Homo sapiens: one gene and its partners. The protein of the gene in region 1 purifies or fractionates together with the protein of each later gene. This does not show direct contact. Each region holds a gene or a part of one and is shown in the gene's direction. Other genes may lie near its edges. The genes, in order: CDKL4, MYO18A and FKBP5.

The links.
Region 2: the proteins of CDKL4 (region 1) and MYO18A purify together in Homo sapiens (affinity purification with mass spectrometry; 3 studies listed by BioGRID and IntAct, with this or other methods). This does not show direct contact.
Region 3: the proteins of CDKL4 (region 1) and FKBP5 purify together in Homo sapiens (affinity purification with mass spectrometry; 3 studies listed by BioGRID and IntAct, with this or other methods). This does not show direct contact.

Annotation. Positions count from the first base shown.
Region 1 is NC_000002.12:39,188,359-39,192,109, reverse strand, and holds part of CDKL4 (cyclin-dependent kinase-like 4), read left to right. Parts: intron 1-1,607; coding exon 1,608-1,805; intron 1,806-2,650; exon of another isoform or gene 2,651-2,763; intron 2,764-3,751.
Region 2 is NC_000017.11:29,117,788-29,121,538, reverse strand, and holds part of MYO18A (unconventional myosin-XVIIIa), read left to right. Parts: intron 1-327; coding exon 328-541; intron 542-780; coding exon 781-923; intron 924-2,103; coding exon 2,104-2,204; intron 2,205-3,098; coding exon 3,099-3,162; intron 3,163-3,349; coding exon 3,350-3,494; intron 3,495-3,751.
Region 3 is NC_000006.12:35,682,165-35,685,915, reverse strand, and holds part of FKBP5 (peptidyl-prolyl cis-trans isomerase FKBP5), read left to right. Parts: intron 1-3,751. UniProt on the Homo sapiens protein: Immunophilin protein with PPIase and co-chaperone activities. Component of unligated steroid receptors heterocomplexes through interaction with heat-shock protein 90 (HSP90).

The DNA of each region.
Region 1 (3,751 bases):
ATTTCCATTATGGCATTTATTAATTTTTATCCTTCAAAAGTTTATATAACTTTATAAAAGAGCAATGAGCAAGTAAAGATTATTTCCTTTTCCCACTCCTATGAGGACTGTTCTCTGACCAGAGCTGTAGCCGCTACTTTCTGAGCTGCCTTTTGTGGCAGTGTCTTTGGGGCTACCTGACGACTTTACTAAGGAGAATTGCCCATTACCTCATCTCTGCAAGTCGGGCTGCTTTCCAATTGTTCCTCCTCTGTAATGCATTTGTACAGCTCCTGATCGTTCAGGGTCCTGTGATGATTCTGGGATTGGCTTCCACCCACTTGGAGGCAGGTGCCTTGGGTCCAGGCAGTCCACACCTGTGGCATAGGGCAGGGCTGGGCAGTGAGGGTGCACCTAGCTCTCTGTCATCTGTCTATCACATATCACACATGACTCATACATAGTACAAGGAGTCAAATTGAGGTCTTTGTCACAGTGGGTCACATTTGGATAGAAAAATTAATTTATGCAATTGTCTAGTGCTGCATTAGTTTCCTGGGGCTGCCATGATACATTACCACAATCTGAGTGGCTGAAAACAACAGAAATCTATTTTCTCACAATTCTGGAGGCCAGACATCTGCCATCAAGGTTTCAGCAGGGCCACATTCCCTCTAAAGGCTCTAGGAGAGGCCCCTTCCATGTCTCTATCCTAGCTTCTTTTTTTGTATATGTGTGAGTTAGAGTCTTACTCTGTCGCCCAGGCTGGAGTGCAGTGGCATGATCACGGCTCACTGCAGCCTCCACAGGTTCAAGTGATTCTCCTGCCTCAGCTTCTCAAGTAGCTAGGACGACAAGCATGTGCCACCATGCCTGGCTAATTTTCGTATTTTTAGTAGAGACAGGGTTTTGCCATGTTGCCCAGGCTGGTCTCAAACTCCTGACCTCTAATGATCTGCTTGCCTTGGCTTCCCAAAGTGCTGGGATGAGAGGCATGAGCCACCATGCCCGGCCTCTAGCCCAGCTTCTGATGGATGTGGGAAAAGTTGGCATTCCTGTGCTTGCAACTGCATCACTCCAATCTCTGCCTCCAGTATCGCTTGGCATTCTCCATGTCTCTGCATCCCTGTAAGGATTCAAGTCATTGGATTTAGAGTCCACCCTAATCTAATATGACCTCATCTTGACTAATTAATTACATCTGCAAAAACCTTATTTCCAAATAAGATCACATTCACAGGTAGCAAGAATTAGGACTTCAACCTATCTTTGGAGGGGACACAATTCAGTGCACAACAACCACCATGCTGATGGTAAAGTGGAAACCAACAATGCGGTTTAGACTTAAAGTCACACTCCAGAAATTCTCATTCCCCCCATCCCTATCACACCACCCGCCACCCCAGTTTGGAGTAGTAAGAGATGTTAATTATCTAAAGTGCTCTTGAATGTCAAATTTACTATCTCAATGCACAGTAACTGTTTCCTCAATTAGTGCCTCAATGCATTAACCCTTAAGAGTATCATGGCCTCTGATGGTTATTGCAGCCTGAATGCCTGATGTGTTCTTGGGAGCAGTTCACATGTTGGGAGAATTGACTTACCTGATCTGATTGATGCATTTGCAGTTCCAGGAGATGCCTACACCGATTATGTAGCTACGAGATGGTACCGAGCTCCTGAACTTCTTGTGGGAGATACTCAGTATGGTTCTTCAGTCGATATATGGGCTATTGGTTGTGTTTTTGCAGAGCTCCTGACAGGCCAGCCACTGTGGCCTGGAAAATCAGATGTGGACCAACTTTATCTGATAATCAGAACACTAGGTATGAATTGCATTTTATGGCAACAGAGTTGCTGAATTGTTATAGCATTCATATGTTACTATAATAAAAAATAAATAAATAAAAATAAAAAACAAGAGTTTTATTGCTTCTTCAAAGTGTCACTCAGGATGGTTGTTCTCAGTTCTGGGTTGTAGCCAAAGCCCAATCCTTTTCTAAACATGCAGAACCGTAACTCCTCTCAGGGAGCTCTCAGATCCCTTTGCAGGAAAAGTCAATTAGCCATGGAATAAACTATACATTTACTTTCCATATCAGACTAAGATAGGGATAAGGATATGAGTCAGCTGCCTAGAGCTTAATCTAAGATATTTGATCAAATGCAATTTCTGTCCACTGTAAAAGAGGTTCCCCCCTTTACTCTAGAGCAGGAATCAGCAAATTTGTTTCTATAAAAAGCTATATGGTAAATATTTTAGGTTATGCAGGCTGTACAGCCTCTGTTGCAGTTCCCCAACTCTGCTATTGTAGTGCAAAAGCAGCAATACGCAGCATGTCAACAAATGAGCATAGCTGTGTTCCAATAGAACTTTATTTATGGACACAGAAATTTTAATTTATTGTAGTTTTCACGTGCAACAATATCAAAAAATCTTTTTTGACTTTTAAAAATCTGCTTAAAAATGTAAAACCAATTCTGAGGTCACAAGCTGTACAGAAACAGGCAGTAGGCCAGATTTGGCCCACACTCCTGCCCGAGATCCTAAGAGTCTGATTTTACTTCCTGATTAGGGGTGGCTGCTGAAGTTTAGAATAATGTTAACACATCTTCTTTGTATAGTACTTAAGAATTTACAAATTACTTTCATACGCATCATCTTTTTCAGTCTTAAGAAAAACCTGTTAAGGAAGTTATAATGTTTTTAATTGTGCCTATGTTATAAACGAGGAAACAGAGGCTTAGGGAGCTTCCATGATTGGCCTGAAGTCATATAGCCAGGTAAGTGCAGAATAGGAATGAGACTGCAAGGGTTTCTTTCGTGAGCTTTCATTATGTGTCAGCATAACCCGAAAAGTGAGCCACAGCTTCATGCCAACAGCATGGATGCAAAGAAAGTGACACCTCTACACACAAAATGAGAATTTGTTAATTTCTTCCCACAGGCTCTCCTGGCAGCATGGCTGCTGGACAGTTCCCTGGTCAGTTCCAACATATTATGGAAAATTCTGCAGCATGAAAAATGTGGGGTAGATTACCACTGCAGGCCACACTTTGTTTGTCTGATTCATTCCCTAAAAAGATTCTGGAAATTTACATTACATACCTGAGTTTAAATCCTGGATCTGTTAAGTTACTGTGTGATCTTGGACAAGTTATTAAATTTCTCTAAGCCTCATTTTCCTCATTGGCACAATGGGGATTTAAAATAGCAACTACTCCAGGCTGGGCAACATAGGCAGACCCCATATCTGCAAAAAATTTTTAAAAATTAGCTGGACATGATGGCGCATGCTTGTAGTTCCAGCTACTCGGGAGGCTAAGGTGGAAGGATTGCTTGAGACTGGGAGATCGAGGCTGAAGTGAGCCATGATCATGCCACTGCACTCCAGTTTTGGCAACAGAGAGAGACCCTGTCTGAAAAAATAATAACAACTATTGTTGTGAGATTATGAGATGAAGTCTCATAAAATCTCATTTATGAGATTAAATGAGATAATGTGTGTAAAGACCATAGTACCATTCTCTCACCTTGTCTTTTTTTTTTTTTTTTTTTTTTTTTTTTTTGAGACGGACTGTCACTCTGTTGCCAGGCTGGAGTGCAGTGGTGTGATCTTGGCTCACTGCAACCTCCGCCTCCCAAATTCAAGCGATTCTCCTGCCTCAGCCTCCTAAGTAGCTGGGACTATAGGTGCGCACCACCACACTCAGCTAATTTTTTGTATTTTTAGTAGAGACGGGGTTTCACCATGTTGGCCAGGATGGTCTC
Region 2 (3,751 bases), on another chromosome or scaffold:
CCCTCAAGGCTACCCTGCAGACTCCTGGTCCCACCCCCTGCCCTGGCTCTCTGCCCTTCCCCTGTGGCACCCCACTGGGCTCCTGTCCACTCTCACAGTTGACCTTGGGAAGAGGAGTCATTTCAAGAGATGGGGGACAGGACCTCCCCACAACCTTTGATGGAGTCCAGGACTTAGTGTCTTCATTTCCATGCATGGCCTTGGCCTTGGAATCCCTGGGCACTACAGGAGGGAAAATCCAGAAAGATGTGGACCTTGGGGGTGAGGGGTGTCTTAATGGGATCAGCTAAGAGCCAACCCCTTCTCTCCCTTGCTCTCCTGCCCAAGGTGATGCACATGTTCAAGGGTTGTCGGCGGGAGGACATGGCACCCCACATCTATGCAGTGGCCCAGACCGCATACAGGGCGATGCTGATGAGCCGTCAGGATCAGTCAATCATCCTCCTGGGCAGTAGTGGCAGTGGCAAGACCACCAGCTGCCAGCATCTGGTGCAGTACCTGGCCACCATCGCGGGCATCAGCGGGAACAAGGTGTTTTCTGGTGAGGCAGGGACAAGGGAGAAAACTGAAAGTGGGGTGAGGGGAGGGGAGTGAGGAGAGAGCACCCTCTTAAGTGCCAGCTCTTTTTCTCCCTGGCCTTTCCATCCCCCCGAAACCCCTCTGTCCACGGGCAGTTCTGGTCTGAATGGCCCCAAGCCTTCATACCTCTGGGGTAGCTCCTAGCTGGGGGATAAGCTGCCCCTGGCTTTCCTGATATCCCCTTGGGCCTGTATTCTGCAGTGGAGAAGTGGCAGGCTCTGTACACCCTCCTGGAAGCCTTTGGGAACAGCCCCACCATCATTAATGGCAATGCCACCCGCTTCTCCCAGATCCTCTCCCTGGACTTTGACCAAGCTGGCCAGGTGGCCTCAGCCTCCATTCAGGTGAGAGTGCTGCCCAGGACTCGGGGTAGTAGGACACAGGCCACATGATTTCATGACCTAGACATCAGGCTCTCTCCCATGCCTCATTTTCCTGGGATTCTACCCTAACAAAATTGACCCAGGCATGGGCAGGGTTGGCCTGCACTATCCAGAGGCATCACCATTCTGCCCTCAGGGCCTCCTGCCCTGGATGGGGCCAGTCCAGCTTTCTGCCCAGTTCCCTTCACTCTCCCAACCCTGGGGTTGTCCTAACTCTACTGCTGGGCCTCAGCCTTACTTCCCACTTTCTGAGATTCATGCTCGGGGCTTCTCTCGGGCCGATTTCACCTAGCAGAGGACTGGCTTGTCAGTAAAGTAAGGCCCAGCCAAGGCTGATTCCCTCCCATGCTAAATACCTCACCACAAGCTCCCATTTCCAGAAGGCAGGCACCTGGGGTCTGGGCAGAGCAGCAGGGCCCCTTTGGGAGCTGGGCCTGTCTTCTTCCACCTCATTCTGGTTTCTGTCCCCCATTTGATCCTAGAGGGATCTGGTATCTGATTGAGCACCTTGGGAATAAGATGCACCTGCTTAATTGAGCCAGATGTGGTAGTGCACGCCTGTGGTCCCAGCTACTTGGGAGGCTGAAATGGGAGGGTCACTTGAACCTGGGAGGTTAAGGCTGCAGCGAGCTGTGATTGCGCCACTGCACTCCAGCCTGGGCAACAGAGCGAGACCCTATCTTAAAAAAAAAAGACTTAAAAAACAAGATGCAGGTTGGGTGCGGTGGCTCACGCCTGTAATCCCAGCACTTCGGGAGGCTGAGGTGGGTGGATCACCTGAGGTCAGGAGCTCAAGAACAGCCTGGCCAACATGGCAAAACCCCATCTCTACTAAAAACACAAAAATCAGCCGGGTATGGTGGTGCATGCCTGTAATCCCAGCTACTCAGGAGGCCAAGGCAGGAGAATTGCTTAAACCCAGGAGGCAGAAGTTGCAGTGAGCCAAGATCGCTCCACTGCACTCCAGCCTGAGTGACAGAGTGAGACTCCATCTCAAATCTTAAAAAAAAAAAAAAAAAAAAATGCAGCTGCTTGTTCCCCAGGGCCTAGAGGACCATGTGTTTGATTCCTTCTTATGTGGGGTGGGAGAAACTTGATCTGGCACTACCCTCCTTACCCACACGTCCATGCTGTGTCACAGACAATGCTTCTGGAGAAGCTGCGTGTGGCTCGGCGCCCAGCCAGTGAAGCCACATTCAACGTCTTCTACTACCTGCTGGCCTGTGGGGATGGCACCCTCAGGTGAGATGGGTCAGAGGGTACACAAGGGTTCTCTGAACTCCAGCCCACTGACTGGGCTCCTGGACCTTGATTGCATCCAGAATTAAAGCCACTTGATCGCATCCTGCACTGTTTGGTCAGTGCATGTCTGCTATGTGCTAGGCTCTGAGCTAGGCCCCAGGGACAGTGAGATGGATGAGACATAGTCCCTGCCTATCAAGAACTCCCTGGTCCTGGGTACTGGGGCCTGGCTGTATTGGAGGGGAACAGCCAGCCCTTCAGTGTTGCCAGGGCCTAGCTAGGATCTCCATTACCCATGAAGCCAGTTCTGGAAAGCAAAGCACACTGAGGTACCAGTGGTTGGGGACTTGCCTACTGTCGCATGACTGGTAGGGGGCTGAACTGGTATTTGAATCCACACTGGGGCCAAAAGCCCATGCCTCTTCCAGTGCCCTCCAGACTAGCCCTTCCTGCCCCACGTTGGCTGCCTCTGCCACGCTCTTCCCTTCAGACATTCAGATTTGCCGCGTGTGTTCACTAAAAAGAGATAAATGATGAGGCTGAGCCAGCATCCCCAGGCCATTGTCCTCTTTAGCCCTTCTTGTAACTGAGGGCATCGTCTCTGCCTTGGCGGGACTCACCCTTCGGGCAGGTTCCCTGCTCCCTTCCGGGGGCCAGGTTGCATCCTCTCACCAGGGCATGTCTGGTGGCTTGTCCTCAGGAGAATGGTACTCTAACCAGGCATCCAGGCCAGTTAGGAAAGCAGTGACAGCTGGCCCGCCAGTTGGGGATGATGGGATGATGGGCAGACAAAACTTGGAGTCTGGAAGCTGAGTCTGTCTGTCTCCACCCTGGGCGGAAATGGCCTTGGCATGGGGACCAAGTGCCGTGCTGATGCCTTATTTGTACCCCTAGGACAGAGCTCCACCTCAACCACTTGGCAGAGAACAATGTGTTTGGGATTGTGCCACTGGCCAAGGTGAGGGGTCTGTGGGGTCTGGGTTGCCAGCCCTGGGCCTTGGGGGTAGGAGAAGCCTCCATGGGTCCTGTGGGAATAGTGGGAGCCCAGCTCCAGCTGCTGGCTCTACCCAAGCCTTGCCCTGAGGGCCCAGCCTCATGGGGGTGTGCTGGGAGGGACAGCCCTTTGAGGTCATCTATCTCCACAGCCTGAGGAAAAGCAGAAGGCAGCTCAGCAGTTTAGTAAGCTGCAGGCGGCCATGAAGGTGCTGGGCATCTCCCCCGATGAACAGAAGGCCTGCTGGTTCATTCTGGCTGCCATCTACCACCTGGGGGCTGCGGGAGCCACCAAAGGTAACCTGCAGTGGGTCCCAGTAGGCTGGCCTGTCCCCTGGGTGACCTCACAGGGACCCTGCCCACTCCCAGTTTATTCTTGCCCAGCACAGACTTAGCCGTTCTGAGACAACCCTCTTTTGCTTGTGCCTCTTCTCAGCCCCCCACTTCAGAGCAGAAGGCCCGGGAAGCATCTTTGGCAGTGACGACCCGAGGCCTGGACTTAGCTGGCTGTGCTGGGGGGCACCATGAGGAAGCATGGAGGGCTGGGGGTTCAG
Region 3 (3,751 bases), on another chromosome or scaffold:
CTGCCTCCCGGGTTCAAGCGATTCTCCTGCCTCAGCCTCCTGAGTAGCTGACACTACAGGCCTGCGCCACCATGTCCGGCTAATTTTTGTATTTTTAGTAGAGACGGGGTTTTGCCATGTTGGCCAGGCTGGTCTCGAACTCCTGACCTCAGGTGATCCACCCGCCTCAGCCTCCCAAAGTGCTGGTATTACAGGCGTGAGCCATCGCGCCTAGCCTAGTATTGCTTTATTTAACAGTAATATGCTTGCTGTACCCGGCATGAAGAATTCCTCTAAAGACCATTAATTAAAATAAGTTTTCATAATTCCTAAAGAATAATCTATATTATACATATTGGCACACTAAATTTTGTAATTCATGTTTAACAAATATCTGCATTTTATAATTCTGAAACTATTTGAACTTTACAACTTAGCTGATTAGTAGATTTTGTTTTTTAAGTATTTTATATTTCTAAATTTTTCTGCAGTACATTTTAGTGCATTTTAAAATTCTGACATCATATCCCCAAAAGTATAAAGAAAATTAAATCTACATTCAGTAGCGACTGGGTGGTGGTGGTATGTATGTCACATAACTATTGATTTAAAACAATAACCACTTAAGTGTAATTTAATTTGCAAATGAGATGTTTATTTACTATGTAAAAGACAGTACTGCCAAATGAGACTGGCTAAAATAATTTACAGTGGGGCCATATGTACTAGCAGGTTACTAACAGATTAATAAGGATATTTTAACAATATTTAGAACACTAAAATTCCACTACTCAAAATAATTTGTACTTCTTATAGTAGTTTGAGAACCTACATTTTATGCTTAATTTAGTATTTACTTCTAGTCTTTTTTTTTTTGAGTCGGGGTCTTGCTTTATTGCCCAGGCTGGAGTGCTGTGGTGTCATCATGGCTCACTGCAGACTTCCCAGGCTCAAGAGATCCTCCTGCCCAACCACCTGGTCTCAAGTGATCCTCCCACCTCAGCCTCCCAAGTAGCTGGGGTTACAGGCACACACCACCACACCTGGCTAATTTTTAAAACTTTTAATTTTTAGTAGAGATAAGGTCTCACTATGTTGCCCAGGCTGGTGTCCAACTCCTGAGCTCAAGTGATCCTCCTGCTTTGGCCTCCCAAAGTGCTGGGATTATAAGTGCGAGCCACAGTGCCAGGCCGACTTATAGCCTCTTGGAAAACATTTGGTTAATGAAAGTGAAGGTCCACCAGAGGGAGTGTGGGGTCTATATATTTGTTGTATTTGTTTTTTACCCTTGGTCTGGAATCAAAACATTTAAAAAATAAGAATAAGATTTTATTTTAGTTCTCTAAAACAATCAGTCAAAAGATATTGAAAATTGTGATTGTAGTTGTTTGGAGTTGCTGTCATTTTTGTTATCAAAATCAAGGCTTAATCAAGGCTGTTTTTCTTCTTAGAAAAAGGTGGCGAGGTGCAGTGACTCACGCCTGTAATGCCAGCACTTTGGGAGGCCAAGGCACGTGGATTGCTTGAGCCCAGGAATTTGAGACCAGCCTGGGAAACATGGTGAAACCTCCTCTCTACAAAAGTACAAAAGTTAGCCAGGTGTGGTGGAGTACACCTGTAGTCCCAGCTACTTGGGAGGCTGAGGTGGGAGGATCACTTGAGCCTGGGAGGTTGAGGCTGCAGTGAGCGGTGATTAAGCCATTGTACTCCAGCCTGGACAACAGAGCGAGACCCTGCCTTAAAAAAAAAAAAAAAGATACAATTACTGGAAAAATGAAAATGATGTATTTTCAAAGTGAAATAATGGGTTTTTAAGTAAACAGTCACACATCTGTGAAAGCTAAGGAATGTCCAAATTCTTTATTTTATTATTATTATTTTTTGAGACAGGGTCTTGCTCTGTTGCTCAGGCTGGAGTGCAGCGGTACAGTCTCCGCTCACTGCAACCTCCATTGGTTCAAGCGATTCTTCCTGCCTCAGCCTCCTGAGTAGCTGGGATTACAGGTACACACCACCACGCCCAGCTAATTTTTGTATTTTTGGTAGAGACGAGGTTTTGCCATGTTGGCCAGGGCCAGGCTGGTCTTAAACTCCTGATCTTAGGTGATCCGCCTGCCTCGACCTCCCAAAGTGCTGGGATTACAGGTGTGAGCCACCATGCCCAGCCTAGGAATGTCCAAATTCTGATAATGTTTTATAAGATTAAAAATATAGGCCAGGCCAGGAGGTCAGGCGTTGGAGACCAGCCTGGCCAACATGGCAAAACCCCATCTCTACTAAAAAAAAAAAAAAAAAAAAAAAAAATTAGCCAGTCATGGCAGTGCATGCCCTTAGTCCCAACTACTCAAGAGGCTGAGGCAAGCAAATTACTTGAACCTGGGAGGTGGAGGTTGGAATGAGCTGAGATTGCACCACTACACTCCAGCCTGGGCAACACAGTGAAACTCCATCTCAATAAAAAAAAAAGTATATATATATACCAGGCATGATGTCTCACACCTGTAATGTCAACACCTCAACACTTTGGGAAGCCAAGGCAGGAGGGTTGCTTGAGCCCAGGAGTTAGAGACCAGCCTGGGCAACATAGTAAGACCCCATTTCTACAAAAAATATAAAGTTCTCCAGGTGTGGTAGCTTGTATCTGTGATCCCAGCACTTTGGAAGGGTGAAGCAAGAGAATCACTTGAGCCCAGGAGTTCAGTGCTGCAGTGAGCCACCATACTCCAGCCTGGGGGACAGAGCAAGACCCAGTCTCAAATACACACACACACACACACACACACACACACACACACACACACACACACACACACACATATACGTATATATATACACACACACTTTTTTTTTTAAAGAAAGAGCTTGGGATATATATTTCTATACTTTTTTTAAGAAAAAGATTGGAAGAGACATATATATACACACAGACACATACATACATTTTAAAGAGATTGACGTATGTTTTTAACCTTTTTTTAAAAAAGAAATGGGATATATATATATATACTTTTTTTTCTTTTTTTTTTTTTTTAAAAGAGATTGTTTCTTGCTCTGTCACCGAGGCTGAAGTGTGGTGGCTAACTGCAGCCTCGACACAAACTCCTGGGCTCAAGCAATCCTCTTGTCTCAGCCTCCCAAAGTGCTGGGATCCCAGGCCCAAGCCACCATGCCTGGCTTAAAAATGTAGTACATTTGAATTGTATCCTTTTGAAATTGTTCGTTTTTTGGAAAGAAGAATAAGAGATGAAGAAAAATCAGACTGGAAGAGGGTTGTTTTTTCCCTTTTGTAGTTGCAAATCCTAAGTGGGCAGTGGTAAATTTCTAGAATCATTTGTAGCATTCTGTTTTAAACTTGGCAATTTAAAGATGTTATAAATGAGGAGTCCCCAGAAAATGGTCATTTCATTATCAAAAGCAGGGTTGCAAATTTCAGATTGATCTTTTCAAAAGTTAGATTTGTACTTGTTCTCAGTGTTCCTATCTCTGGAAACTAAAGAACCTCCTCCATTGTTAGCTGAAAATTGCACAGTGAATTTGAAAGTCAAGATGTCCCAGTCATGGACATAATGCTGCGATAGGTTACTTTTTGGAATGGAGAAAACATCTTAGAGATTGAGTCTGCATCAGAATATATTCTGAATGAGCATGGAATGTTCTTTACCCATGTTAGATATTAATTAATTAAGTTTTTCCATGTTTAACTTTTTTAAAAAAGCAAGACAATAAAAACAGTCTTGTAATCTGAACACATATTTTGGGTTTTGTTGCTAGC